2 separate regions of the Homo sapiens genome follow, and region 1 is linked to region 2. Evidence: fine-mapped QTL for protein levels in blood plasma. A gene starts in region 2. The other region holds a variant in brackets. All regions are shown on one strand. Distances are between the middles of the regions.

The links. A credible set is the group of variants that fine-mapping cannot tell apart. PIP is the posterior inclusion probability: the model's chance that the variant is causal. Protein levels are from antibody-based Olink assays in UK Biobank. Linkage for the fine-mapping came from a reference panel and not from the study's own genotypes, which makes the PIPs less certain.
Region 1: its variant is the best candidate, but not a certain one, in a credible set for the plasma level of the LPA protein (UK Biobank, PIP 0.78).

What each region holds. Positions count from the first base shown.
Region 1 is chr6:160,592,887-160,608,725 of GRCh38, forward strand. It overlaps LPA (lipoprotein(a)), which reads right to left. Exons shown (of 39, transcript NM_005577.4): 17 at 13,591-13,772; 18 at 12,160-12,319; 19 at 8,031-8,212; 20 at 6,614-6,773; 21 at 2,468-2,649; 22 at 1,072-1,231. Among named protein-coding and RNA genes, the nearest start is that of LPA, 63 kb to the right of the region's middle. RefSeq lists an enhancer at 12,074-13,273. The variant G/C (reference allele first, on the strand shown) is at 7,730.
Region 2 is chr6:160,657,769-160,673,607 of GRCh38, forward strand. LPA (lipoprotein(a)) reads right to left here and starts at 6,507. Exons shown (of 39, transcript NM_005577.4): 1 at 6,398-6,507. The coding sequence starts at 6,446.

The DNA.
Region 1 (15,839 bases), 65 kb before region 2:
CAAATATCCCCCAGTGCTATGTGAGCTCTAGCATCTCCATTGAGCTCACTGTTCCCTTGCAGTTGTTCTTTCCCCAGTAGCTTTTCTTTATTGTTCTTTCTTTGTGAAAACTCTCCTTGTGCATACGCAGCTTTGTATTTAGCCAAAGCCTTGAGAAGACTTCGGTGTGTATTCTTGGAGCTCCTTTCCTCCACAAATCCCCTCTCATTCTTAGCCAGCCTAGAATACGTCAGATGCCTGAGGCATCACAAACTCCAGTCTCTCTCCTCAGTTAAGCAAGACTGCTGTGGTCAGCTGGGCTCCATCTGCTTGCCCTTCAAGGGTCTCAAGGAAGGATGCCAGGGACATGATAAGGTTGATCTCCTTTGATTCCCTTTCTGAATTTTCTCAGGCCTGTCATGTCTGTTGTCCAACCTATGAAAACACTTTTCCTATGTATTTGATAGTCCTTCATGGCAGAAACGCTGACGTGGTCTGAACTGGGTTTCTGTCCATCTTCCTGCATGTGTAACTCTTCAGAATCTTTATACTTCCTGACTCTCAGCTGCCTTCCTACTTTTGCCCCTCATGTGCTGGCAACACATAGCTCTTCAGATACCTTGTTCTCAGAACCCAGGTACAGGTTAGAGGAGAAAGTGATTGGAAGATCTGGATGTCAACATAGATATCCTTTATTTGTTGCCCAAGATGAACATGGCTAATACAACCTTCACTTCAGGACTTGGAGATTAGAATGACAGAAATCCCTGGTTGAACTATTGCATTGGTCTTTAGTGGGCATTGTGGAATGGTGCTATTTCTAAGCACGTGGCCATGTGTCCTGAGCTTTCTATTCATGAGAACTCACCACCTTCAAATATCCTCCTGCTTCTGTCAACTATGAGAAAAGAGAGCTGGCCTGACATTTCTCTCCTTTCAGACACTGTGCCTGAAGAAAGAAGCCTGAGACATTCTACCCAACATTCCAGATCTGAGATAAATTTGTCATAAGAAGTTAGTTGGAAGCATGGCCCTTCCAAGAGAAATGTAAGGGGGCTGCTGTCTGTCTTTGAAGAAAACTCAAGGTTGTACCCATTTGGATAATATTCTGTTGTCCTCTGATGCCAGTGTGGTGTCATAGAGGACCAAGACTGACATGTCCTTCCTGTGACAGTGGTAGAGAATGAGCCTCGATAACTCTGTCCATCACCATGGTAGCAATCCTGGACCCCGGGGCTTTGCTCCGTTGGTGCTGAAATTCAAAGAGGAGAAATCAAGCTGAGTAATTTCTAGAACACAGAAGCATCAGAAGAAATCTGTGACTGAAACAGGATCATTGTCTCTGAGAAAGACTACCATGCTCTGTTCTGTACTAGCAGGCAGATGGACATACCAATAATAAAACCCAAAGATTCATAGCATTCTAGAACTTTAACGAGTTCTTAGAAAGATTTCCTTTAAAACACAGGCACCAAAGGAAAGATCAGAGTGCCTATCAGTCAAAATTGCACTCATGTGCATGCTCTTTAATATAGACATCTTCTGGGTGTTCCTGAGAATAAGGCAGGAAACTAGACTGCTATGCATCAGGCTGTGCAGGTTGTAGGTGGTGATTGACTGTCAGTGGGGACAGACATGAAACCGTCACACATTTCCCTAGACTGCTGATCCTCCAAAGCCAAAGCCTTCAGCTTCTTGAAGATGGGGCAGGAAGCGGTCCTGCATCTAGGACTCGTAGGCAAAGACAAATTGTCTCTCAGAGAGGGCTACTGGCCAAAATTTTATTCCCTTGGAGGGATGGCTGGTATCTTTGGCCCAGGATTCTGCATTGCAACAAAGTAGATATCCACTACTCTTCTTCTCAGAGACCAACACAGATATATGTTCCATGAGAAGGAGGGGCAAGAACACTGAGAGATCCCTCCCATCAAAGCCTAGTTGTGCAGGACTGGCTTAAGATGGAGATAGGCCAGAACGATGGAGCATTTGTTGGCTATGTACTGCTACCTGGACCCAGAAGTATATGGAACTAAGAAAAGTCATATTAGGTTTCTCAAGGATGACAGACTCAAAAACCGCATTCCTCCGAAACCGCAAAGCCAAAGATGCAATGAACACTGACTACTTGAAGAAATACCATGAAAGGCTTATCATGAGCTTGGTAAATCTTCACAAATTTGGCAAAATGTTAGAATATTCTTCTGGCTAAGACACTAAAATGATCCTTTGAATAACCAGGGGAGTGGTAAGTCCAGTGCCCTAGAGGGTCTGCACCCTTCCTATAGATACCACCCTTTCACAGGGTACCAAACATCACAGCTCTGGTTCTCCCAGAGAAGGCGCTGAGTGTTCCTTCCCAGTGGCTGACCCTGAGTCCACATTCTACTTGGAATTGTGTGAGCATGGAAGGCTTCTATATCACTAAGATTTTGCAACTCTTTTCATCCCAACGTCCTAGGGTGTGGTTGTCTGGCCATAGACTTCCTACCTTCTTCAGAAGAAGCCTCTGTGCTTGGATCTGGGACCACCGTGAGAGTTGCAAGGACACTTGATTCTGTCACCAGGCATTGTGTCAGGTTGCAGTACTCCCACCTGACACTGGGATCCATGGTGTAACACCAAGGGCGAATCTCAGCATCTGGATTCCTGCAGTAGTTCCTGGTCAGGCCACTGCAAATTTCAAAACAACACAGGTCACCAGAGATGGGAGAAGATTCAAGGGCACTTAGCGCCCTCTACATTTTGCTGTAACAAAGTGTAAAAAGAGACTTTGAAATATTTTCACTAAAGGTCCCATAATATGCACAAATGGTCCTCAACTTCTAAACAACTGCGAACATCTCAAAGACAAATTATCATTCATATTGTAACACATCCAAAGTCATCTGTGCTCCATAAGAAAATTGAGAGTAAACATCAATGTTTACTCTGTACATTGTGCAAGTTGCACTTGTACTTGTACAACTTCAATTGTACTTGTACAATTATACTCTGTACATTGTACAATGTTGTACAATGTACAAGAGGATCAGAATACCCTCCTTCCACCTTCTGTGAAATATGTTCCTCCAGATTAACTGAGATTGATTTTGAAGTGTGTCTTGTAGATTGTTTTATGCACATACAAATATTTCTCTGTCAGCCTCTCTGTATGTCTCTCTACAGGACTACACTAACTATTCAGCATCTGGTTTGCTGATTTGTTGTCTTCCTCAGGAATTGGCCCACATGATTAACATTCCTGAATTTATTCACATACAATTGTTCTCAAAATCTTCTTTTCAGCTTTCAGAACTGGAAGATGCTATAGTAATGGCACCTCTCCTCTGTTACTCCAGATGGTGATGGTTGTGCACCCTCATTGGTCTGTCATTTGTTTAGCCAGACTGTGTTCAATCATATGGATCTTTTCAAAGAATCAACTTTCTGTTTCAAGAGTTTACTCCCTTGTTGGTCTCTTTTCTTGTTCACTGAATGTCACTGGTTTGGACTACTTCCTTCCATCTGCTTTCCTTGGCTCTTATTTGCTTTTTTTTTTTTTCTTGTGTAGATATTTAAGCTGTGGTCTTAGATCAACAACTGTCAAAGTCTTTGTTCATAGGGGATTCCAAAGAGCTTTTCTTTTTCAAAACACAAGATGAATATTTATAGTATAAGAAACCAACACTGAGAATTTTTTTAACACACAAAGTCAACAATTGCCCATTTTCTTAGCCATCAGAGACATGATGCCATTACATATTATGTAACTGCTGGAAAACTCCCCTCTTCTCTTGTTGGAAAATGAAAGTAAAAAGGGCCAATAGCATCTTACTTTTCACGTAGCAAAGTCCTTTAACCTCATGGACTGTCTCTGAAGGTACTCAAAGGTCCTCAGGTTTCTCTAGACTACACTTTGAGAATTGCAGTTTGAAATCTTGATTATTACATGCTTCTGTTTTTCCCTAAGAGCATCTAAAATTATGTAAAAGCCTAAAGACATTCACTGCATCTCCTAAGTTTGGATAAATTGTGTTATATTCTTACTCAGTTCAAAACTTTTCTAAATTCCTTAGTGATGTTTTCTTTGTCCCAAAGAGTATTTTGAAATGCACCGTATGACTCCCAAATATTTGAGAAGCTGGCAAACTTCTCATTATTCATATCTCACTTTATTCTGGGAGAATAAAGTGACACACTCTGTATGACTTTAATTCTTTTAAATCTATGGAGACTTGCTGGAAGGTCATGTGTAGAGTACACCTCAGTGAATGCTCCATGCACACTTTAATGTGTACTCGGTAGTTCGGTATAATGTTAAATAGGTCGACGTTTTTATTGAGAACAAAGATACTATGTCTAATTTTCTGCATATTTGTTCTAGCCTGTTGTGTTTGGGAAAGATTTATAACCATAGTGAGAGAATCAAGGAAATCTCTAACTCAGAGTGTGGGCTTATCTATTTCTCTCTTCAGTTGTGTCAGTTTTTCAATCATACATCACAAAAGCTCTTATTAGGGTAAAACACATTGAGCATTGCTACATATTCCTCAATGAACAATTTTTACTTCTCTATGTTTCAATGCTCGTGTGGCTCTAGGATTCACACCTGTGTGGGTGTGGGTGTGTGCACGTGTGCCATTGTGTGTATATATGTGCAGCTATTTCTGTAGATTCTATTGAATTATTTTTCAGTTAATTTTTTCCCTGGAAACAACTAACCTGATTGGGAGACCATCCAGTGAATTTTTCATTTAAGATATACCTTTTAATAGTCCTTTAATTTGATTTGACTCTTTTATCCTTTTACTTTCCCTTGATATGATATCTGTTACGTTCCATGTTTATGTTTTCTTAAATCCAGCAATGCAGTTATGATACTAATATGTCAAATTCTCATGCCATTTAAATCATTTCTATCATTCCTGGTTCTATTTTTATTGACTGATTATTTTCCTGGTTATGGTTCACACTAAATGCTTTTTTATGTGTAGTAAAGTTATAAATTTAGGACTCACACTGTGGATATTGCATAGCTCAGCAACTTAACTTTGTTGTTCACCTGTAAAGAGTGTTGAGTTTTCTTCTAGAAGGCAGTTAATTGACTAGGACACCATTTTAATGCTTGGAGATTTGCTTTTCAGCTTTGCTAGGTTTTTTCTGGAGCTGCCTTTATTCTAGGAATATACAAAGTCTACTCATAAAGTCTGACTTTTCTGAGGTCTCTACTGAATGCCCAAGATTTTCAATGAGGTCTCTTCTCTCTAGCTGGTCAAAACTCCAATATTCCAGAGCACTATGTGAGCTCTGTCACCTTTATTAAGCTCACTGTTCCCTTGTAGTTGTTGTTCCTCAATATATGGTGTTTTTTTGCCATATTTTCTTGTGGAAAATCTTCTATGCAAGTGCTGCTTTATGTTTAGACTAACACTTGAGGAGACTTCTATGCCTGGAGCTCCTATCCTCCACAAGTCCATTCTTACTCTTAGCATGGCTAGAAAATCCTAACTACCTGAGTAATCCCAAAGTCCAATCACTCTCCTCTGTTCAGCAACATGGCTACAGTCAGCTTGGGCTCCATCTCCTTGCTCTTCAGTGCAGGAAGGGTCTCCTTGAAGAAAGCCAAGGCATTGATGGGTTGATCTCATTTTCTCCCTCTTGCAATACTCTTGGTCCTCTAGCATCTGTTGTTCAACATGTGGAAACCGTTTTGCCGTGTCTTTGGTAGTCACTTATGGCCGAAAGACTGGCCATAGAATGGCCAGATCATGGCTTCTGTCCATCTACCCGCCCCTTTTACTTTTCAGCATCGCCCCTTTGCTGACTCTCATCTGCTTTCCTGCCTTTGTTCTTCTCCTCTGGGCAGACCGTATCTCTTCAGACCACTGGTGCTCAGGACCAAGTGTGTTTGTACCCATTGAAAAAGAAGTAGATAGAAAAAGATTTGCCTCTCCATAGATGTGCAAGTATCAATTCCCTGTGACCCAAGATGCAAAAGGCCAACACAACATTCACTTCAGGGACTAGAGCTTAGAATGATAGAATTCCAAGGTGAAAAGGTTGTATTAACCCTCAGCCGATGTTGTAGAAGGATACTCTAACTCTTTGGTCATTTGTCATCCCGGCTGTTTTATTAATAAGATCTTCTCAACTCCATATATCCTTCTGCTTCCATAAAACTAGGAGGAAGGAGAGCCAGCTTAAAAAATGTCTTCTCAGCCAGGCACGGTGGCTCACGCCTGTAATCCCAGCACTTTGGGAGGCTGAGGCAGGCGGATCACGAGGTCAGGAGACCAAGACCATCCTGGCTAGAACAGTGAAACCCTGTCTCTACTAAAAATACAAAAAATTAGCCGGGTGTGGTGGTGGGTGCCTGTAGTCCCAGCTGCTAGAGAGGCTGAAGCAGGAGAATGGTGTGAACCCGGGAGGCGGAGCTTGCAGTGAGCCGAGATCATGCCACTGCACTCCAGCCTGGGCAACAAAGCAAGACTCTGTCTCAAAAAAACAAAGTCTTCTCTAAGAACTTTTGCTCACAGGAAATGTTCCTCTGCATCTGAGCCAAGTTGAGTCCTGAGCAGTCACCTTGAAGCATGACTCTTCTAACAGAAACTTCCATTGGCCCTTCCTTCGCTTATGGTAAAGAACAAAGACGTACGCATTTGGGTAGTTTTCTGGGGTCCGACTATGCTGGTGTGGTGTCATAGATGACCAAGCTTGGCAAGTTCTTCCTGTGACAGTGGTGGAGTATGTGCCTCGGTAACTCTGTCCATAATGGTAGTAGCAGTCCTGTACCCCGGGGGTTTCCTCAGTCAGTGCTGAAATTAAAACAGAAGACATCAAGCTTATTATTTCCTAGAACAGAAAAATACAGGAAGCCATTTATGACATAAACCAAAAAAGAGTCACTGAGATTTACAACCATTCTCTATTCTTTATTAATAGGCAAATGGACATGAGAAAACACACAAACAAACACGAAAGTAAGAGATGCCTACCATTCTAGAACTGTAGTAAGTTCTTAGAAATATTTCATGTAAAACTTAGTGGAAAAGAAATATCAGATTGCTTCTCATCGGAAACTCCACTAACATGGAAGCTCATTTCTAGGAATCTCTACAGAGTGTTCATGACGACATGGAACAGCATAGAAGAAAGGGTGATGCATTTGGCAAAGCTGAAAAGCAAGTCTCCAAGCATTAAAATGGTTTTTTGGGGAGGAGGCAAGGACATATAAAAACCTTGCATGTGTCCCTAGATGATTGCTCAAAAAAGAAAGCATTAAACTCCTGGTGATGGGGCAGACAACAGTCCTGCAGCTAAAACTGTAGGCAACAACACTTCACTTCTCAGGGATGAGTGGAGGCCAAAAGCTTATCACCTACAATAAGATAGGGAATCCTCTCGTGCCCAGCATAATGCATTGCAATAAAGCAAAAGTCTACTACTCTTTTTCTCCAGACCCCCCGCAGGTACAAGTTCCATCAGAAAGAGGCAAAAGCACACGAAAAAATCACTCCCTTCAAAGCTAAGAACTGCACAACCTGCCTCGGACTGAAAAAGACCTGAGAGATAGAGCTTCGGGAGCTCATGTACTACTCCACAGACCCAGGGAGATATGGAATTAATGCAACCCAGTTAGGTTTCTCAAGGATAACAGGATCTAGAGCCACATTTCTCGGAATCTGCAATGCTGAAGATTGCACTGAATGCTGTCTACTTGAAGAAATCCCTGGAAAAGTTTACTGGCTTGGAAAGACACACACATCTGACA[G/C]CATATTACAATAAGAATTTTGTCTAGGACAATGAGATAGCCCCTTTTACAATGAGGGGAGTGGTGAAGTCGAGCACCCAGAATGGTTTCCGCCCATCCTAAAGACACAGCTCGCACAGGTTGCACCAAAAATCACACCTCTGGCTCCCCCAGAGAGTGCGCTAAGGCTTCCTCCCACATGGCAGACCCAGAACCAACACACGAGAACCAGTGTAGCACTGAAGGGTTGTGCGTCAGTGGGGGTATCCATGGCTTTTCATCCCAGCATCCAAGCAGGTAAATGTCTGGCACAACTTCTTACCTTGTTCAAAAAAAGCCTCTAGGCTTGGAGCCAGAATAACATTCGGAGGGACGAAGGCAGTCCATTCTGCATCTGAGCATCGTGTCAGGTTGCAGTACTCCCACCTGACACTGGGATCTGTTGTATAACACCAAGGGGCTGCCACAGGATCTGGATTTCGGCAGTAGTTCTTGATCAAGCCACTGGAAATTCCAAAAGAATACACATCACAAAAAATGGGTACATATGCAGGAACACTGTATATTTTGCTACAACAAGGTCATTACTGGTGCCTTTGAAATATTCCCAAAAGAGATACCATACAATTGCCACAATGACAAATGGCTCTCAATCTCTAATCCTCTCTGCACATTTCTCATACTTAATATATTATCACTTTTTTTAAAGAAAAAAAATCTAATGCAGCACACACTTCCTAGAAACACTGAGATTATACATACATGTGGCCAAAAAGGGATCAGAATATCCTCCTTCTGCCTTCTGCCCAATCCATCTCTCTGGAATAACTGGTATGGATTTTGACGTGTGTATTGTGGAATTGGTTATGCACATACAAAAGTATCTCTATCTGTCTAGCTCTCCGTATCTCTCTGTGTAGGACTTCATATAGTAATGTGCGAGTTGGAACTAACACATAGTTCTCCAGAGAAAAAAATGGCATCCAGCATGATATCCTTCCCAGGCCAGCAGTCTCATTCAATGTACTCAAAATGTAGCCAAAAGGCTCTATGTTCAGCATGTAAAACCATTGCACAAAAAGTATTCCTGTCTGTCGATACCGTATCAGGTGGGTCAAGTGGGTTTCTTTCTGCAAGACTTCTCAAAGCTGCCCTGGAAACCTAGCTTTCAGGCAGGATGCAGTATCTCTAGGATGGGTTCCTGGTCAGGACTTCCTCTCCTGCTCTCAGTCCATCCTCTGCTGGCCACAGCAATTCCGGGACTGAGGGAATGGGGGATGAGTTGAAAGAACAGTGGCACTCATGGCATAAAGGGAGACAGCTGGGCAGACTATGAGGTCTGAAGAGGTCGGGCAGCTATGGAGGACCTCAGGCTGGGGAAATCTCAGAGCATTCACTCCTCCTTATGCCTCCTAAGAACATTGCTCCAACCTCTCAGAATCCTCCCATTCGTGACCTGTGGCTGCCTGGGAAAACGGGAAATGTATTATGGGCCATGGGGATCCAACACTGTCTCTCTAGAGACTCTACACATGTGACCTAGTCTCAAGCCCAGACCCTCCATTCCAGGAAGCTGGTTCAATGAGCAACTGGATGTGCTCAGAGCTTGAGTACTTGAAAGACTTCTTTTTCTTCCTTGGCTTCCCTCTTTTGGATACATGGAAAATTCTTATTATATAATATCCCTCAGAATTCAAAATTTTATGATTGCTTTAGGATTTACAATATCCCTTTGGACCCACAAATTCAACCTTTCATTAATATTACATACCATCGTGGATAAGGTAAGAAACTTACAATGGTACACTTCCAATTATTCCCCACATGATTTAGTCTATATGTTCAAATTTTTACCTCTACATATGCTAAAGTTAAATATATTGCTATCATTTTGCTTCAAGTAGTCAACTCTCATTTAAAAAGATATAGAAATTTGATCAAGAAAATATTTTGCATTTACATCTACATTTGCCATTTGCTGGGTTCTTCATTACGTGGGCTGCAGAAAGTTCTCCTCTTGAACTATTCTTCTTCTAGCTAATTTTCTTTGGGCAACATCTCTTGTTACACAAGCCTGCTGATTCCAAATTATTAGTTTTTGGTTTATTTATTTGGGGCAGTGCACAATATGCATTTATCCAACATGGATGATCTTCAAGGCATTTTATTGCTGGATGTAGCATTCTCATTTGATCTCTTTTTTTTCTAGTTTATCATTTTAATGATATCCCCTGTTAACTGGGTTCCAGTGTTTCTGATGAGAATGCATTAGCAATTTGTATCACTGTTCTTCTAGCAAGACACAGCTCTTTTTCCTCCAGTTTCTCATGAGATGTTTCTTGTTATTATATCTTTGCCTTCTGACTGTTGAACGGTGATGTACAAAAGTGAATCATACAGTTTTTTTTTTTTTTTTTTTGGAAATTCCCTGTCTGATTCATTCAGCTTCTTGAATCTGTGGTTTTTAATATTCTTCTTATTTGAAAAGTTTTTAGCTATCCTTGCTTCCAGTATTTGTTCCTGTAGCAATCTCTCCTTCCTCTCCTTCTGTGACTTCCTACCCACATGCAGGAAATCTTTTTATATTTTCCCGCCTGTCTGTGAGGATCAGTGGATTTCATTTTTTAGTATTTGTGGAGGTGTGTGTGTGTGTGTGTGTGTGTGTGCGTGCATGTTTCTAAGCCTGTGCATGTGTGAGTATGTGTGTATATGTGTGTGTCATTTGTGTATGTGTAGCTGGTTCTGTAGGTGGTATAAAATTGTTTTTCAGTTAGTTTTTACTTCTGAAACATCTCACTCCATTGGGAATACATCCAGTAATTTTTTCATTTAAGACATACCTTCTTATACTAGTTCTTTAATTTAATTTGGCTCTTCTATACTGTTACTGTCTCTTGATATGGTATCTGCTTCATTCCGTATTCATGTTTTCTTAAAACCTAAAACTCAGTTGACATATTGATATGTCAAATTTTTTGCCATTCTAATCATTTCTGTCATTTCTAGGTCTATTTGTATTGACTGATTTTTCACCTGGTCATGGTTCATACTAAAAGCTTCTCTATGTGTAGTCAAGTTTTAAATTTAGAACTCACACTGTGAACACCACATAGCTGAGCCACTTGACTTTGTTGTTTACCTCTAAAGAGGGTTTTCCTCTCCCAGGCAGTTAATTGACTTGGAAATGATTTTAATGCTTGGAGACTTGCTTTTCAGTTTTGCCAGGGTTTGTCTAGAGCTGCCTTTTTTTCTAGAAATTTACTAATTCTACTCCTAAAGTATGACTTTTCTGGAGTCTCTACTGTATTCCCAAGAGGTTCAGTGAGGTCTCTCCTCCAGCTGGTCAGAACTCCAGTATCCCAGAATGCTATGAGGGCTCTGTCCTCTTTATTGAGCTCACTGTTCAATCGCAGTTGCTATTCCTCAGGATATATTCTTTTCTCTACTTTCTTGTGGAACCTTTTTCTGGGCACATGCAACGTCATGTTTAGCCAAAGATTCGAGGAGACTACTATGCGTGCCCCTGGAGCTCCTTTCATCCACAAATCCATTCTCATTCTCAGCAGGCCTATAAAATCCTAGCTACCACAGTAGTCCCAAATTCCAATCTCTCTCCTGCATTCAGGAAGATGGCTACAGTCCATCTGGGCTCCATCACCTTGCTCTTCAGTGCAAGAAGGGCCTCCAGGAAGAAAGCCAAGGTATCTATGGAGTTGATCTCATTGTTCCCCCTGTCACTATTCTTTTGGTCCACTACTGTCTGTTGTCCAACATGTAGAAACCATTTTTCCATGTCTTTGGTGTCACTTATGGCCTAAAGCCTGGCCATGGGCTGGTCAGACCTGGGCTTCTGTCCATCTATCCACCCTTTTACTTTACAGGATCTCTCTCTTTGCTGACTCTCATCTGCCTTCCTGCCATTTTTATTCTCTAACAACCAGTATCCCTTCAGACCACTGGTGGTCAGAACCGACTGTGTTTCTACATATTGGAATAGACGTAGATATAGAAAGAGATAGATTTGCCTCTCCATAGATATACATATATACTTTCCTTGTAAGCCAAAACAGAAAACCCCAACAGAACCTTCACTTCAGGAATTGGAGTTTAGTTTAATAGAATTCCAAGGAGAAAAGGCTGCATTGAACCTTAGTGGGTGTTGTGGAAGGGTACTCTAAGAGTTTCATCATTTGTCATCTTGACTTGTTTCTTAATGTGATATCCTTGCCTCCAGATACCTTTCTGCTCCATTAAACTAGGAGGAAGGAGAGCCAGATTAACATTTGTCTTCTCTTAGACTCTTTGCTCAAAGACAATGTTCCTGAGACATTTTGCTATGCACTGTTCATCTGAGACAACTTGAGTCCTGAACACTCAGCTTGAAGCATGACTCTACTAACAGAAATTTCCACTGACCCTTCCTTCACTTATGGTAAAGAAAATAGACATACGCATTTGGGTAGTATGCTGGGGTCCGACTATGCGAGTGTGGTGTCATAGATGACCAAGCTTGGCAGGTTCTTCCTGTGACAGTAATGAAGTATGTGCCTTGATAACTCTGTCCATTTCCGTGGTAGCACTCCTGCACCCCAGGCCTTTGCTCAGTTGGTGCTGAAATGAAAAGAAAAGAAATCAAACTGAGTGTTTCCAAGAAGAGACAAACATGTGAAGCCACTTATGGCACAAACCAGAAAAAAGTCTCTGAGAATTATGACCTCAGGAGAATATGACAAGTAACATTCTTGTTTCTTTATTTGTAGGCAGATGGACTTGAGAAAAGCAACAACCAACCAACAAACAAAAACACCAAAGAAACAAATTCCTAACACTTTAGAACTGTAGTAAGTTCTTAGAAATATTTCACATAAAAGCTTAGAAAAAAAGGACAAATGAGAGGGCTTCTCAATGGAAACTGTGCTCACGTGCAAGCACATTTATGGGAATTTCTACTGAATGTTCATGAGGACTATGGGGCAGCAAACAGCAAAGCACGATGCATTTGGGGGTACAGGCCATACATGGTGATTGGGTGTTAGGGGCAGAGAAACGGACAGACATGAAAACAATGAACGTTTCATAACAAAAGGCAAGGTCTTCAGCTTCTGGGCCATGGGAGAGACAACAGTCCTTCGTCTAGGACTGCAGACAAAGACACTTCAGTTATCAGGGATGGGTGGAGGCGAACAGCTTACTCCCCTGCAGGAGAGATGAAATCCTCTCATGACCCACATCCTGAGTTGCAATAATACAGAAGTCTCCGACTCTTTCTATCCAGACCGCTCACAGGTACAACTGCCACCAGAACACGGGGCAGTCACTCACTTAAAAACCTAGGGCTGCAGAGCCCACCTATGACTGAGGAAGTCCTGAAACATAGATCATTGGGAGTTCATGTACTGCTCCATAGAACCAGGGTGATTTGGAATTAATGCAACCCTGTTAGCCCTGTTTCTCAAGGGTGACAGGCTCCAGAGCCACATTTCTCTGAATCTGCAATGCTGAAGATTGCACTGAATGCTGGCTAATTGAAGAAGTCCCAGGAAAAGCTTACTGGCTTGGAAAGAGTCACACATCTGACAGCATGTTACAATAAAAATTTTGGCTAAGACACTGAGATAGCCCATTTTTCAACGAGGTGAGTTGTGAAGTCGATCACCCTGGAGGGTTTGTGCCAATTCTAAAGACACAGCCCACCCAACGTTGTACCAGAAATCAATCCGCTGGCTCCCCCAGAGAGTGCACGGAGGCTTCCTCCTACATGACAGAACTCAGTCAACACTCGAGCATCCGTTTACCATTGGAGGCTGCTGCATCAGTGGGAATTTCCATGGCTTTTCATCCCAGCATCGAAACGTGTAGGTTTCTGGCCACAGGCTCCTTACCTTGTTCAGAAGGAGCCTCTAGGCTTGGAATCGGGGTAATAGTTGGAGGCGCGACGGCAGTCCCTTCTGCGTCTGAGCATTGTGTCAGGTTGCAGTACTCCCACCTGACACTGGGATCCCTCGTATAACAATAAGGGGCTGCCACAGGATCTGGATTCCTGCAGTAGTTCATGATCAAGCCACTGGAAATTCCAAAACGATACACGTCACAAGAGGTGGGACAATATGCAGGGGCACCCCACACCCTCTCCTTTGTGCTGCAACAAGGTCATTACCAGTGCCTTTCTAATATTCCCATAAAAGTACCATATGATTGCCACAAGCACAAATGGCTCTCAATCACTAATCCTGTCTGCACATTTCTCATACTTAAAAGATTATTATTATAAAAAAAAATCTAAAGTAGCAAACGCTTCTTAGAAACACTGAGATAATACATACACGTGGGCAAAAAACGATCAGAGTATTCTCCTTCTGCCTTCTGCCCAATCCATCTCTCTGGAATAACTGGTATGGATTTTGATGTGTGTATTGTGGAATCGTTTATTCACATACAAAAGTATCTGTATTTATCTAGTTCTCCGTATCTCTCTCGGTAGGACTTCATATTCTAATGTGCAAGTTGCAACTAACAGGTAGTTCTTCAGAAAAAACATGGGATCCAGGAGGATAACCTTTCCAGGTCAACCTTCACTCTCTATGTACTCAAAACCTCGCGAAAAGGCTCTACTTTTCCCATGGAAAAGCACTGTGCAAATTGTATTACTTTCTGTCATTCCCATATCATGTGGGTCAAATAGGTTTGTTTCTGCAAGACTTCTCAAAGCTGCCCTGGAAAACTTGCTCCCAGGCAGAATGCAGCATCTCTAGAATGGGTTCCTGGGCAGGACCTTCTCTCCTGCTCTCAGTCTACCCTCTGCTGGCCGCAGCTACTCTGCACTGAGGGAAAGGGGGATGAGTTGAAAGAACAGTGGGACCCATGGCATAAAGGAAGATGGCAGGGTAGACTAAGAGATCTGAAGAGGTCGGACAGCTACGGAGGAACACTGCATTAGGGGGCAAAGCAGGTAGGAGTTTGGGCTGCGGGGATCTTGAAGCATTTGCTCTTCCTTATGCCTCCCAAGAACGTTGCTCCAACCTCTCTCTATCCTCACATTCATGACCTGTGGCTGCCTGAGAAAATGGGAAATGTATTACGGGCCATGGGGATGAAACACTGTCTCTCTAGAGACTCTATACATGTGGCCTAGTGTCAATCCCAGACCCTCCATTCCAGGAAGCTGGTTCAATGAGCTACAGGATGTACTAAGAGCCCAAACTCGTGACAAATTTCTTTCTTCCTTGGCTTCTCTCTTTTGAATACATGGAATATTCTTATTATACAATATACCTCAGAGTTCAAAACTTTGTGATTGCTCTAGGATTTGCAATATCTCCTTGAACCCACACAGTAACATTTTATTAATATTACATACCATTGTGCATGAGGTAAGAAACTTACAATGGTACACTTCTAATTATTCCCTACATGATTTACGCTACTTGTTCAAATTCTTACCTCTACATATGCTAAAATTAAATATATTGCTATCATTTTGTTTCCAGTAGTCAACGCTCATTTAAAAATATATAGAAATTTGGTCAAGAAAATATTTTGCATTTACATCTACATTTGCCAATTGCTGGGTTCTTCATTACATGGGCTGCAGAAAGTTCCCTTCTTGTACTATTCTTCTTCTACCTAATTCCTTTGGGTCACCTCTCTTGTTACATCAGCCTGCTGATTCCAAATTCTTACAGTTTCCGGTTTCTTTGTTTGGGGCAGTGCACAACATACATTTATGCAGCATGGATGATCTTCAAGGCATTTTATTGCTGGATTTAGCATTCTTGGTTGATCTCTTCTTGTTCCTGTTTACCACATTAATAACATTCCCGGTATCTGGCTTCCAGTGTTTTTGACGAGAATGCATTAGCAATTTGTATCACTGTTCTTCTAGCAAGAAACAGCTTGTTTTTCCCCAGTTTCTCATAAGAAGTTTCTTGTTATTATATCTTTGTCTTCTTACCGTGAAAATGTGAAGTACAAAAGTGCATCATACCAGATTTTTTCTTTTTTTCGAAACGCCTATTTGATGCATTGAATTTCGTGTTTTTGCGATTTTGTTAATATTCTTGATCAATGAAAAGTTTTCGGCCATCCTTGATTCCGGTATTTGTTTCTGTTTCCAATCTCCCGTTCTCTTTTC
Region 2 (15,839 bases):
ATAAATTCAGCTTGATCCAACTCTATGTCCCTTCCACCATTATCCCTTACCCTTAATATCCATTCCCATGCCTGTTCTCCAGATTTCTGCCAATATAAATTAGAAAGCTTAAGCAGTTCTTTTAGAGTATAATGCACCTCCTCATGGGTCACACTCTGAACCTCACCTCTGGGGCCCGCAAGGAATTTAGCCTAGTTATAGGTCTAGAAGCATTCAGGGGCATTAGGGGTGCCTCTTGAGGAGAATCAACATTATCTTGCCTGGCAGCTGCCTCAGGGAAGGCCATCACTGTTGCCTCAAGCAGTGCAGGGTTTACATCCTCAGACAAAGGTGGAAAGGCTAATGGCAGCACGGGTCAGGGAGGGGATGTTACCACTACTGGGGATGGGGAAACTGTTTCTTCTGGCAAAAAAGTTTCATCAGAGTTCACAAACTCAGTGTCCTCAGCTTCATCAGGGTTCTCCCACACATCCCCACTCCAAGTTCCAGGGTCCCATTTTTTTCCAGTCAATGCCCTCACTTTAACAGTAAACACCTGGCAAGGCTGTGCATGCACCTCTTGTTGCAGATCAGCTACTCGCATGATAACAGCTTGTCTCTGTTTTTTCACAATTTCAACTCTTTCTCTACAGGAGTTAAAACTCTCATTCAGGGCAATCTTAGCAGATTTGTGGCTCAGTATCTGCTTCTGAAGGTGGGAGACAGATCCCCTGAGATCATCATTTTCTTTCATCTCTTTCTCCAGAGAACTTAGGAGCAATCAACCAACTTCATTATGTTCCTTGGTTCTCCACATATAGTCAAAGGTATTATGTATAGAGTCACTAAACTCCTTGCCTCTCATAAGTGATGAATCAGTAGTGTCAAATGCATTTATTTTGCATAACTCTCTAAACAATTCAGGCCAAGTACTATCAGTGTTCTCCATACTATTAGAAGTAGAGTCCTTAGCATTTTTTGGTCTAATCATATTAATCAGCCAACACCAGAAGTCCCAAAACCAATGAAAGAATTCCATCCTTAATATTCTGTTCCTCAAGAACCACTTCTGGTATGAAAATCTGTATTAGTCGGGGTTCTCTAGAGGGACAGAACTAATAGGAGATTATATATATATATATATGAGAGAGAGAGAGAGAGAGTATATGTATATATGTGTATATATAGTGAGTATACCTATATCTATCTATAGATATAGATATACTCACACAAAGGGGAGCTTATTAAGTGGTATTAACTCACAAGATTACAAGGTCCCATAATAGGCCACCTGCAATCTGAGGAGCAAGGAAGACAGTCCAAGTCCCACAGCTGAAGAACTTGGAGTCCGATGTTCAAGAGCAGGAAGGATCCAGCACAGGAGAAAGATGTAGGCTGGGAGGCTAAGCCAGTCTAGCCTTTTTACATTTTTCTGCCAGCTTTATATTCTGGCTCTACAGCTTGGGGGCAGCAGGGGCAGGGGCCTCAGGGTGCTTGCAGGGATGACACACTGGCCTCTTTTCCATAGGGTGGCTGGGGCACACTGGGGTGTGAGTAAAGCACTCAGGATCTTTTTTCCTTCCCTAGTCCAAGTACAGCAAGGGCAGTATGACTGCAGTGTTAGTGGCAGAAGGACTTTCAGTCACCTCTGGGAGCTTCACCCCACAAAAACACAGAGTGCAGCCAGTGGAAATGTTCAACTGAGTTCGAGGTGCCTGCACTGTGGGCCCAAGCCAGGAGCCTTGCCTGGTGAAGAGTAGCAGGTGAAAGCTCACAAGAAAGAGAAACTGGAATTCTTTCCCTGCTGTGTGCTGGAGGTGTCAGGGAAGTGGCCAGGTCCCTTCTTTCTCAAGCCCAAGGGCATTAACGGTGGTACTGCTGCAGCTGAAATGGCAGAGGGGCTGTGGGTTGTCTCTTGGATTTCCTCCCCAGAGAAGCACAGAGCCAACACTGACTAAAATGTTCAGGCAGGGCCAGGGTGGCTGTGCTCTGCCCAGTGAGGAATAGTAGGGGCAGGGACCAGTGCAGAAAACAGTGTGGCCACTTTTCCATAAGGCAGCTACACTGTGCTGGAGGTCCGTGAGAGTCCTGAAGCTCCTCGCTCCCTCCTGAGCCCATACTTTAATCTCAAGAGTTTGAGATAAACAGTGGTAAGGAAGAAAGTACAACGGGTACGGCTAATGAAACCCAGGAAGATAAGTCAATGCGTAGAAGTAATTCCAACCTAAAGAAATACTTTTTAAAAATCATATTTATAGAGGTTTGCAGTGATACTAAAGACAATATTGCAAATCATTATTAAGAATACAAGAAGTACAATGTTTCTTGTTTCTTTAACACCTGTGATACAGGTGTTTGATATGAATTCTACGTAATGGCTGCATTGCTTCTTGCCACCACCCAAAGAAGGTTGTATAGCACTCAGATGTATACTAACTGCAACCGTGTATCTCTTAGGAATTTCTCCTTTGCCCTCTTCCCTCCCTATCAGCATGTATCTAGCAGCATTCTGAAAAGTTAACTGCACAGTGAGCGACTGCTGGGCATCTTAAGGGGCATTCTTTTCTACCTAGGTATTCCCCCTCCTCCACTCATGTCTAGCATGCAGGACTTGGGTAATCTCTGGGGTTTCAGATTCTCCAGACCTCCATTCTCTCAGGGGCTTCCACCTCCTGCTCATATCTAGCTATCTGCCTAGTCTAACCATAAAATCTTAAATAAGAATAAATCATGTTTGCTCTTGATTGCCATGTCATGATAAAAAAAATAAGACACCATCAGTGGCAACTGTGTTGCCAAGATTGATGTTGATCTGCTAATCCCTGTGTAGAAATGAACCTTGGAGGCCATTGTTTGATTTCTTACAATATGTGCATTGGTTGTAACACTGTCACTTTGACAGTTGATAAGCATCTTCTGAATGGTCCCTCCTTTAGTTACAAAAATGTTGGTGCATGGATGATGTTGGGAATAAATAAAAAGTGAACTAAATTATGTTCTCATCTTGGGCAAAAATTAAGCAAAAAAAAAATGGAGGATATGAAGCTCCTCCACAAAGAAGGCCATTTTTGTACTAGGCTTACTACAGTGACACACCACTATTAGTTGGGGAGAATTCAGTTTTTCCAAGGTGTTGATAGGCATCCAGATTTCAGAGGAAATTGTAAAAAAGCAGAACCTGGGACCAATACTGCCCACGATTTTTCTTTGAGATCAAATCTGAGGCAACAAATCTGTTCAAAAGCTGCTTTCTGCCTGGTTGTGGCAAAGGGTGGCCAAGTGGGGCTCAGCTGTGTTCCCATTGCAAGGCTACTGAGCATCCCCTGTCCTGAGGCTCCTTAGGACACCTGGCTGAGCTTCAGCAGCCCTCTTCCAAGCCTGGAGATGCCAGCTCCATCTCTGGCACAAAATGTAGTGATTTTCACAGGGTGAGAGGCCAAAAGAGGCTAATAAAATGAAGATAGCCAAGCTTCCATGGAATTAAGCAACAGGACAACCTTGACCACTTTGAGGGGTGTGGTGGGGGCCACATGCAGATGGAGTGGGTTAAAGAGTGACTAGAAGAGCAGTGGGGGTGGCAGCAGGAGAGAAGCCTGGCTCTGAAAGCAGCGAGACTTCTAGGGAATACAGGGTCAGGGGAGGTTCTGAAAGATGACACACTGCAGAGAACATGTGTTTGTATGCCGATGACAAGTATCCAGTAGAAAGGCAGATGAACAGATTCTCATTCTCAGAAAGGCCTGTCCTGACCTCCTGAGAGTACACAGACCATGAGGGCAGGGCAAGGAGGAGGATGCACGCTCACTGTTTCATGCAAAGTCCTTGGCCACAGTCCACCTGCTCCCCACCTCTGTGACTTTGTCCTTCCTCAATTTAATATGCTCTATGCTGGAAAACTGGATTATTGAACAGGCATTGGCTGATGCATTCTGAACCTAATCCACTAAAAAGCACTTGATAGATATATCAAAATATCATTGAGAAATAGATATTTTAGGCCCATATCCATGTCTTCACCCCGCACTGTTTCTCATTTGAACTCTCTTTTCCAGGAAGAGTTGTGCTTGGGTAAATTCTATAGCTCACAGTGTGACTTCAAAACACACAATAAATTAATAAGGTGCTTCCTACAGTGAGTTCAGTTAAACATTTTGAAGAGTGTTTTTGAAATGTAGCAGAGCAGGCTACAATTGATATTCAAAAAGAGGAAACTTCCATTTATTTCCCCCTTTAACTAAGTTACCTGTAACTGTGTCATTTTATTATGCTTCATAGAGCATCACTGCTGAGATCCCCTCCCCAGCTCATGTTGCTAGGAAATATCCCAAAACAGAATCAATTTTTCTTTTTTTAACCTGATGATTTTTCCACAATCCTTTTGTTTCTCTGATTCACCTCCAGGGCTCATATGGCAATGGGGATTTAATAGGGTTTATTTGTTGGTGAAGAAACATTAAACAAATCTTTTAATAGGAAAAATACTTTTATATTATAGGCAAAATGTAGATGTATATTGCTACTGAAGTAAATGTATTTTATTAATGGTGTGAGAATTTCTTCCTCACTGTGGTGTGTGAATGTGTATGCATATTTGCATGTGTAAAAGACTTAGCAATTTGTGAATAGAAGATGTTTCTCCGCTTCTCACTGAGCATGGCTGTAAAAGAAACTTTTTCCTCTCCCCGGGCATTCCAGCACACATTGGAAAGATAACACGTCCACAGAAAGCCTGGCTTTCCAAAAGAGCTTATCAGAGAATGTGCCCCCCAGGTCGATTAAAACATATGTTAATCCTGTGGCAGAGAAGTTTGTTCTAGCCTTTGGGTGTAGCCTGCTGAATAAGTTCACAGTGATCTACATCCTAGTTTCCATGGGCTGAAATAGAATATTCATATCCCCTGCACTCCCTACACACACAGACATAGACACCAATTTCCCCAAAAAACTCTTTGCTTAATCTTCTCCTGCTCTGTATTTTCTTTGATATTTTCTTGAATGGCTTCCACTAAATTCAAATGTGTTTGACTTTAAAGTCAACTTGTAAAATTTTATCTGGTAATTTATAGATTAAATTGCAAGCATCTACCTCCCTTTCATCAGACTCTCCCTGCAGGGCAAGTTCATCTAACTATGTATGTGCTTCAAGATGGAACTCCTGAGTTCACAGGTGATTTATAAACCAAAGCATGCCCACTACAAAACTCTCACCCTCCAGAGATTTGCCTCAAGGGACAACACCCTGCTCACAAAGGCACCAGCAGGCAACTGCTCAACTACCTGGTGGATAAGGTGCCCAAGCTAGCATGGACCCCTGAATCCTTGCTCGCCTCCTCTGTTGCCTTTTAAAAGTGCCACTTTCTGCTCCTAAAGTGAAGTAGTACGGCAGGACTGCTGCATTTCTTCCCCTAAGCTAGCTTTGGAAGCAAATCACTTTCTTTATACCAGACTTCTCTCTTCTTAATTGGATTCTGCAAGTGGCAAACAATTAACCTGCTCTTCAGTTACATTGGAATGTGTTTAGATTTATTTTTTCAAATGTTGGAACAAAGATGAAAAAGTGAGAAGAGCCCTAGATTTTTTCTTGGAAATCTGGCTTAAATCCAGGTTTCTTTATTTCCTTGATTTGGGAATTTGGTCACGAGACAAATAACATGATTTTCCTAAGTCTAGATTTCTTTGTTTATAAAATGGGGATGACTATGCTACCCTACCTATACCATGAGCTAAATAAGCTAGTATTTGTAAAGGACACACACTTACATTCACAATCACACACGGTGTGTATGTGTGTATGTATGTATAAAAATGTGGGGACCTAACCCACTCAACAAATACCCTGAGTATTTGTTGAATCATTATATGCGTATATCATCTGGCAAATGGATGTGTATAATTTCTCCAGGGATAAGAAGCAAATGTATACCGATGGAAAGCCTTACTCAGGCCATAACAAAGAGAGAAATGCTGAGTCCCACTCCATGAACAGGTCAAGGAACCAAACATATTCAAAGAGTTATTTCATTGTTTCAACTTGCTAGTGAGGGGAGCATGGCACCTGAACAGAGATGATATAAATTAATGAAACTGAGAACCAAGCGAAGAGCTTAGCCATCCTTTGCATAGTTAGCTACAATGGCTATTTATTTTTCAGCCAGACTGGCCATCATGTAGGCACACTCTTTTAGATTAGAAAAATCAACCATTATTTTTTCTGCCCATTCATTCCAGCACCGTGACAGTCTTCACGGGGAAATTAAACTTATTTTTTTAAGAATTTTTCAATCATATACAAGATTTTGAACTGGGAATTTCATGAATCAAAAATTAAATGAATTGCACATAAAGCCATGGCATATGTATTTTTACTACATTGTGGGAGAAAAAATAATTCTTATAATTTAAAAAAACTATGTCTTACCTGATTTCAGAAATAAAAGAAGTAGAAGAACCACTTCCTTATGTTCCATTTTGGGACTGGCCAGCAGTGCCCAGAAAGTGTGTCCCAATCCCAGGACATTGTTGACTTACATGAGAGTAAACGCACCCACAAACCAGATAGTCAAATTAAGTTAATGATTCTCTCAGAGACCCATGCCACTGGCTCAGCAGGGTTCAAACATTACCTTGAATATAGAGTCTTATAAAATATTTGAGAGTGCAATGTCAATAGATGCTGGGAAGTGGTGAAAGCCATTTCCCCCCTCAGCTGCTCCACATTGCCTTTATGTCTCCTTACTCCTTCCCTCACCCCTAGACCTTCATCTTTCCTGATTAGTCTTGTTTCCTCCCCTCTTCTTTCATTCTCTTTCTTTTGGATAAAATAAAATCATAAAAGTAGCTCATATTTGCTGGTAACTTCCATGACCAGACCCTCTGCCAAGTGCTGCACATCCATAGCCTCCCTCAAGCTTTCCAACAGGCAGTGCTGTACGAGGAGGGGGCTGAGGCCTTCCCGAGGTTGTGTCGCTACCCAGGGGTGCAGCTGATAGACACAACCCTTTCAGGTCTTAGTTTACGAGCAAGCTAGGTATAAATGTTAACATCTCCACATCCTATACCAAACTGTGCCGAAATGACAACATAAGTGAAAATCTTTTATTATCTTCAAAATTTATTTATTCCTAGTGAACTCACATGTTTTCTGTAATTATAAATTATGTTATAAGATATCAATCCTTCCAGGAGGGGGTGGTGGCTCATGCCTATAATCCCAGCATTTTGGGAGGCCACGGCAGATGGATCACCTGAGGCCAGGAGTTTGAGACAAGCCTGGGCAACATGCCAAAACCCTGTCTCTACAAAAAATACAAAAATTAGCTGGGTGTGGAGGCACATGCCAGTCATCCCAGCTACTAAGTAGGCTGAGGCACTAGAATTGCTTGAACACAGGAGATGGAGGTTGCAGTGAGCCAAGAATGTGCCACTGCACTCCAGCCTGGGTGACAGAGCAAGAATGTCTCAGGAAAGAAAAAAAAATAATAAATACCAAATAAAATTAATAAAATATCAATCCTTCCTATTCTAGTAGTTGTGGCTTAAATAAATAAATAAATATTTTTAAAAATAAAACATAGGGTCGAGTGCGGTGGCTCAACTCTGTAATCCCAGCACTTTGGGAGGCCAAGACAGGTGGATCACAAGGTCAGGAGTTTGAGACCAGCCAGGCCAATGTGGTGAAACCCCATCTCTACTAAAAATACAAAAATTAGCCAGGCGTGGTGGTGGGCACCTGTAATCCCAGCTACTAGGGAGGCTGGAGTATTCACTTGAACCCAGGAGGTGGAAGTTGCAGTGAGCCAAAATCACGTCAGTGCACTTCAACCGGGGTGAGAGTCTCAATAAAATAAAATAAAATAAAATAAAATAAAATAAAATAAAATAAAAGCATAGTATCAATCTTTCCGCAAATGAATTCATGGTGCAATCTTACATTTTCGTTCTCATGAAGTAAAGCAAGAGTGGTAGAATTAAGTGGAAAGAGTCTATCTCTAGTGTAGTCACGTCAGTGGTTGTGTCAAGATGGTTAGGAGGCTCCTCCCGTTTAAAACAGTATCCAAGCCCCAGTTGTAAATCAATTGGGGAGACACGCCAACTCTGATCATCAGCAATATCTGAGCTCCAGTCTCAGATATTGTGTGCAGTTAGTCTCTGTCCTGTACCCTCTACCTCCTTCCCTACCAGAAAAATCACCACTTTAGTCCCTGGCCACCGGGACACCCCAGGAGGGTGAGTGGTCTGAGGTAGTTATGGCACTTATGGCTCCCTTGCTGCTGATCTGGAACTCAAGCCCCAAGAAGTCCCCTTGGATGATCTGAATATACATTTGGGACAGATCTAGGGAGTTTCTGAGCAACACTTAGACTGGGGTCTTCCATTGATTAAATCCTACTTGAATTCGCTACTTTGGGACTCAAGTCTAAGGGACTGAGACTGAGACAGGAGAGCACAAGACTAACTTTGGTCTCTTGATCTTTTCTTACCTTGCAACTGTCAATGCCTCCAGCCAAATGCCCAGCACAGAGCTCAGTGGATTTGACTCTTCCATTCAGAAACTCATAGCGATTGCACACTTCATTCTCAATCACAGGGAGCTGGGCTTCCTTGAGAAAGCCAGCCCCAAAGGTACCTGTGTTTAAAAAGATGAAAGAAATGGTAACTACGTCCACAACATGTTCACAAGGAAACTCCAGAAGAACAGAGCAGTGGTGATGGACCTCCTGTCTGTCCGTGAGGCTGTAGAACACAAGGCAGCTCCCAATGCTGCCAGACTCTCTGAACCCTGGAGAGTGTAAACGTCATATAAGAGTCTATGTTCCAAAAACCTGGATTTAACAATCTGAGCTTTGTCATGGTGCTTTGCGGTTGGTTGTTGTTTCTTTACCTTTTTCTTTGCTTTTAAAACCATAAAGAATAATGTTTAAATGTAGAGTCTGAGAAATGCAATTGCTATTGTTTTTATATTTTCAGACTTTTTGTATGCTTCTTTCACTAATTACATCATATCACAAAATTTCACACCCTGATTTTTTCACTCAACATTACATAATGAGTTTTGTATAGTGCTATGATCTTCATAACTAATATTTTAAAGGAGAGCTACTGATTAATGAGCATGAGGTTTCCTTTGGGGATGAGGAAAATATTCTGGAAATATGATGATGGTTGCACACCACTGTGAATGTACTAAATGCCACTTGGTGGTACCCTGCAAAAATGGTTAAAATAGTAACTCTTACGCTGTGTACATTTTATTGCAATAAAAAAGAATAGTCATCATTTACTAAGCATTATCCTTTCCAGGCACAAGCTTATAATGTGGTGTATCTCACTTCATCCTCACAACAGTCCTATGAAACAGGCAGTTCCATCACTCCTGCTCTACAGTTAAGGAAACTGAGGTGTAAGGAGGTTGTCTAGTTCAACCTGAGCCTGGGTCTGCGGAGTCACTGCCCAAATGCTTCCTCCCCGTGCGCGTTGGCCCCCCTCTTGCTTCCAACCCTCCACATCTTTGTTCATAAAGTTCATTCTTATTCCTTAATATTTTCTGAGCCTAAGTTCCCATAAATTATATAGACATATTTCTGTCTCCCAATAACACTGCCAATTTATTTTCTAGAAGGTTATGACAGTGTAAAATGTCACTAGAAAACAATCACTTCACCACACTTGTATGAGTGTTCAATTTTTAAATATTAGCTAATCTAACAGGTTGAAATTGTCCTGATTCATTTTCTAATTTATACTTCTTTGACAATTTGGGAGAGTGAAGATTCTCCTGGTTGTGTTTATTCTTTTGTGAAAAACTGCTTTATTTTCTTTGCCAAATTCAAATAGAACGGTTGCAAAATTGCCAGAGGAAATGCTGTTTTTCCAGATGGACACACCCAGGGATGTTTCAGTGTTCTCACAAATAATCCAGTTTTCTAATTTTGCAAGCCCAGCTTTCATTAGAATTTTGCAAAAATCCTTGCTTTGCGAGCATGGCACAGGCAAGAGATGAGGCACTCTCTCTTTCTTCCCCCAGAGCCTTTGACTGCACTTAGATCATTGACTTTGGTTCAGAAACCTGACTGCATCTGGAGTTGACATGAGCAGCATGGAAGATGTTTGTCCCAGCACCTCACTCCAGAGGCCAGCTCAGCTCAATCTGGGCAGAGCTGCATGATGGAAGTTTCTGACTACCAAGCATCGGGCAGAGGGTGCATCACCTGGACTACATAGTTGTGTGAGGGAGCACCGTTCTCTAGAATCTGCTATTTGAGCAAGGCAAACATCCTGATAATGGTGAAAACCTACCGCAAGTTGCCAGGAAAGTTGATGTGGTCTGCGAGTAGGTGCTGCCATCCAGTGGCCGACATAGAGATGTCATCTCTGAGGGCAGGTAGGCCACAGGTGACAAGAGGATTGAAGCCCTCCCTGATGGGGCCTTGGGGAGAGGGCAGCAGGGTAAGTCCAGCGGCAGGATCAGTCCATTGATTGTGGATGACGACTGACCTGGAAAATCCCCTTGGCCTCAACACCTCCAAACTCTGCATTTGATCCAAGTCAGGGAACACCTGGAAACATGAAGGGGAGAGCAGGAAAACTTTGACCTCCCTCTCAGAGGCTGAGAACGCCAATTGACCTGATGTCATTATTGACATGTAGAAAATTGATGAACAGGCCTGAGTTATGTTTTGTGGCACCTCATGGTCTAGTTAGTGTTCTGAGAATCATTTTCTCAGTGGACCTGCAGGTGAGACCAGGCGAGGCAGAAGCCTAGTGGGGGATGGTGGTTAGAAATGTGTGGATGGTTGTGGGGCAGAAGAAACAGCAAGTAGGCTCTGGGCCAGCTACAAACTGGTTATATGATGTCTACTGATGATGATAGTGATGGTGGTGGTGGTGGTGATGGTGGTGGTGGTAATAATTGTGATGGTGGTGGAATGATGATGATGGTGGTGGTGGGTAGTAATGATGGTGTTGGTGATGGTGGTAGTGGTCGTGGTGATGGTGATAGTGATAGTGATGGTGGTGGTAATGATAATGCTAATGGTGGTGGTAATGATAATGATTATCATGATGATAGCGGTGGTGATGGTGATGGTGATGATAATGGTGATGGTGGTAGAATGATGATGATGGTGATGGTGGTGGTGGTGGTAGTAATGATGATGGTGGTGGTGATGATGTTGAGGGTGATGATAATAGTGACAGTGGTGGTGGTAATGATAATGGTGATGGTGGAATGATGGTGATGGTGGTGGAATGATGATGGTGGTGCTGAGTAGTAATGATGGTGATGGTGGTGGTGGCTGTGGTGATGATGGTGGTGGTAGTGGTAGTAACGATGATGGTGGTGGTGATGATAGTGATGATGGTGATGATGTTGAGGGTGATGATAATAGTGATAGCGGTGGTGGTAATGATAATGGTGATGGTGGCGGTGGTGATGATGTTGATGAAGATGATAATGGGAGTGGTGGTGGCAATGTGGATGGTGATGATGATGTTGACGATGATGATGCTCATCACAATCACCTTATATGTTAGTACAGGTAAGAAAGCCAAGGCTAAAAGAGATTAAATAACTGCCCAATGTCACATGGAAGATGGTAGAGCCAGAATTCACACCCAGATCCTTATGATTTTAGCTTGGTGCTTTCATCAGTTGAGGTATTGGAGAGGATCTGTTTGCTTTCTGGCTGCCCAGCAGTCTATCACCCTACATCCCATAATCCTGTTGAGGGATCCACCCTTTGCCCTTCTGGGTATGAGTGGGGTCCTGCCTCCACCTCTAGCATGTAATAGCTGATGCAGGTTGGAGCCAATCAGTGATGGGTTCAGGGACAGGCCTGTGACCCAAGTTCAACCTCTCAGACCTGGCCAACTATTGTTCACTTAATGGGGACAGTGGCCTTCCTCAGTCTTTCCTGGCAAAGCAAGAGCTGCCACAGCATCTGCCACCACAAGAATCTCACCTTTGTGCCCAAGGATGATGCCTACTGCATGGCTGGACAGGGCCTGGGCCCTGGGGCCATCATGTGAGCCTAAAGACTTTTCAGCTCAACAAGAATTCCCCTTTTTTGCTTAATCCATCTTAAGTTGGATTTTCTGTCACTTGCAAGAAAGAGTCATGTTAGATACAACTCTATTCTGTATATTAGTAGGAGCTGCCATGATGGAGTGCGTAGCACGTGCTCGACACTTGATGCACATTCTTATTGTTTCTCCCCCGACAACCCTGCAGCCCCCATTTCATATAAGAAAACAATCAATGAGAGTTCATGACTTTTCTAAGTCCCGACAGCCAGTAAGTGGGAACCAGGGTTCCAATTCAGGTCTCCCTGTGCCATCCTGCACCTTCTCTGAGCCTCAGGTTCCTCACTTGTAAAATAGGAACAATAATATCTAAGTCTTAGAGGTTTGCAGCATTTAAATTTTTATAAGTGCAAAACACTGGGAGCAGCCTGGCACACCCAAAGGTGTTCCTCTTTTGCCAAGTTTCCTTTTAGTTGGCCTCAGTGTTCCCAGACTCAGGAGTGCAGAAAGGGGGATCAAGAAACCAAGGAGGATGACATTTTAAAAATAGTAGAAAAAGCACAGAAAAAGGAAAGCAAACTTTGCAATTATCTAGACCAGTGGTTTTTAACCTTTTTGTTAAACAAAAAACAAACAAACAAAAACCTTTCTTCAAATGACAGCTTATGCAAAAGGCTGATGTGGAAAACACCACTTGAAAATGCTGGTTTTACAAATGAGGGGTTGGAGTCAAGTCATACAAAGAGTTAACGTGCCTAGTCCAGGTCTGTCTGGCTAGTGGCAGAGTCAGAACGCTTTTCTAGGGCTCCAGACTCATAATGTCCTCACCAGCACCTCTGAGAAAGTCAGCAGAGTCAGAACGCTTTTCTAGGTTCCAGACTCATAATGTCCTCACCAGCACCTCTGAGAAAGTCAGGCAGAGATCCCAAAACAGTCTTAGTGTTCCAGTGGTCAAGGGGGTAAGTCTGATAGATATAATTATTGTCAGGGCATACTGAAAAATGAAGAAGGAATCCCTAAGATGTAGTCCAGGTGCTGATACCACATCCTGCACAGATGTTCCCTCTCTTTCTCTCACCCATCAACCAATACCAAATACTATCCTAGATTTGGGGCCATGGGGCCTGTCTGCCTCTCCCTTAGCTGCAGGTCCCCTGCCTAACACCCTCCCACACACATTAGACATGTGGATTTGGTAAGAAGGCTAGTTTATTATAACTTTTGTCATTATTGTTTTACATCATGTTTAGAAATACAATCTGGCTAATTTCACATAAAAAATAATCTAACACCCTTAAGGGCTGGGTGAAAACCCCACTTACCTGAGGAAGCAATATGAATGCTGGAGTTATGAATTCAGAGACTCAAAGACCTTTACTGGTTTTCTGCTTGTTTTAGGTATAAAGGAAATACACAATCATTAAAATAAAAAATGGATCACACCCCAAAACTTCAACAGCAAAACTATTTTGCTAACATGCCCCACTATGAAACCAAAGACAAGAAGTCAGCTACAAATAAAGACCCTGTACAAGGCCTTGGCCCTGTGAAAACCTCCAAAGAAGAAGTCTATTGGCTGTACTCAATCTACACTGCAGTTAAAGAAACACCCACACAGAGACATGAGAAAGAACCAACGTAAGAACTCCAATAAATCAAATGGCCAGAAGGTCATATGTCCTCCAAACAACTGCACCAGTTTTCCAACAAGGGTTCTTAACAAGACTGAGCTAACTCAAATGACAGAAATATAATTCAGACTACGGATACAAATGAAGATCATCAAGATTTAGCACAATGGCAAAATCCAATTCAAGGAAATTAAAAATCACAATAAAATAATATAGAGGCTGAAAGATTAAATTGCTGGTATAAAAAAAGAACCTAACGGATCTGACAGAGCTGAGAGCTGAGAAACAAACTATAAGAATTTCACAATGCAATCCAAGTATTAATAGGAGAATAGACCAAGCTGAGGAAAGGATCTCAGAAATGGAAGACTAGCTCTCTGCAATCAGACAGTTGACAAAAATGAAGAAAAAAGAAGGAAAATGAATGAACAAAACCTACAAGAAATATGGGGAAAAAAGGCCAAATCTACAAATCATTGGCATCTCTGAAAGGGATGGGGAGAAAGCTAACAATCTGGAAAACAATTTAGGATACCAACCATGAAAACTTCCCCAATCTTGCTAGAGAGGCCAACAGTCAAATTCAGAAAATACAGAGAATCCCTGCCAGATTCTACACAAGAAGATCATCCCAAGACACATAATCATCAGCTTTTCCAAGGTCAAAATGAAAGACAGAATGTTAAAGGCAACTAGAGAGAAAGGGCAGGTCATCTACAAAGGGAACCCCATCAACCTAACAGCATACCTCTCAGCTGAACCTCTGCAAGCCAGAAGAGATTGTGGGCCTATATTCAACATTTTAAAATATATATATATTCAGCCAAAAATTTCATATCCAACCAAACTAAGCTTCCTAAGCAACAGAGAAATAAGATCCCTTTTAGATAAGCAAATGTTGAGGGAGTTTGTTACCACCAGACCTGCCTTACAAGAGATCTTGAAAAGAGCACCAACTATAGAAAGGAAAGAGGGCTACTAGCCAATACAAAAATACAATTAAATTCACAAACCAGTGACACTATAAAGCCACCACACAAACAAGCCAGCATAAAAACACAATCAGAGCATCAAATTCACACATACCAATACTTGCCTTGAATGTAAATGGGCTAAATGCCCAACTTAAGAGGCACAGAGTGGCAAGCTCGATAAAAAAGCAAGACCCAATTGTATGCTGTTGTCAAGAGAACCATCTCACATGTAATGACACCCAAAGGCTCAAAATAAAGAGATGGAGGAGAATCTACCACGCAAATGGAAATCAGAAAAAAGCAGGGGTGGCAATCCTAATTTCAGACAAAACAGACTTTAAACCAACAAAGACCAAAAAAGACAAAGAAGGGCATTACATAATGGTAAAGGGTTCAATTCAACAAGACCAACTATCCTAAATATATATGCATCCAACACAAGAGCACCCAGCTTCATAAAGAAAGTTCTTAGAGACCTACAAAGAGACTGAGATGCCCACACAATAATAGTGGGAGACTTCAGCAGTTCACTGACAGTATTAGACAGATCATTGAGGCAGAAAACTTACAAAGATATTCAGGACCTGAACTCAACATTGGATCAAATGGATCTGATAGACCTCCACAGAACTCTCTACCCCCAAACAATAGAATATATATTATTCTCATAATCACATGGCACATTCTCTAAAAATCAACCACATAATTGGACATAAAACAATCCTCAGCAAATGCAAAAGAACCAAAATTATACCAAAAACACCCTCAGACGACAGCTCAATAAAAATAGAAGCCAAGACTAAGAAAATTACTCAAAACCATGCAATTACATGGGAATTAAACAACATGCTCCTGAATGACTTGGGGGTAAATAATAAAACTAAGGCAGAAATCAAGAAGTTCTTTGAAACTAAAGAGAATTAAGAAACAACATACTGGAATCTCTGGGACACAGCTAAGGTAGTGTTAAGAGGGAAATTCATAGCATTAAAAGCTCACATCAAAAAGAAAGATCCCAAAGTAAGAACCTAACATCACAACTTGAAGAATTAGAGAAACAAGAGCAAATCAACTCCAAAACTAGCAGCAGGCAAGGAAAACCAAAATCAGAGTTGAAATGAAGAAAGTCAAGACATGAAAAAACATTCAAAAGATCAACAAATCCAAGAGTTGGTTTTTTGAAAACATTAATAAGACAGATAGTTTGCTACCTGGCTAATAAAGAAGAAAAGAG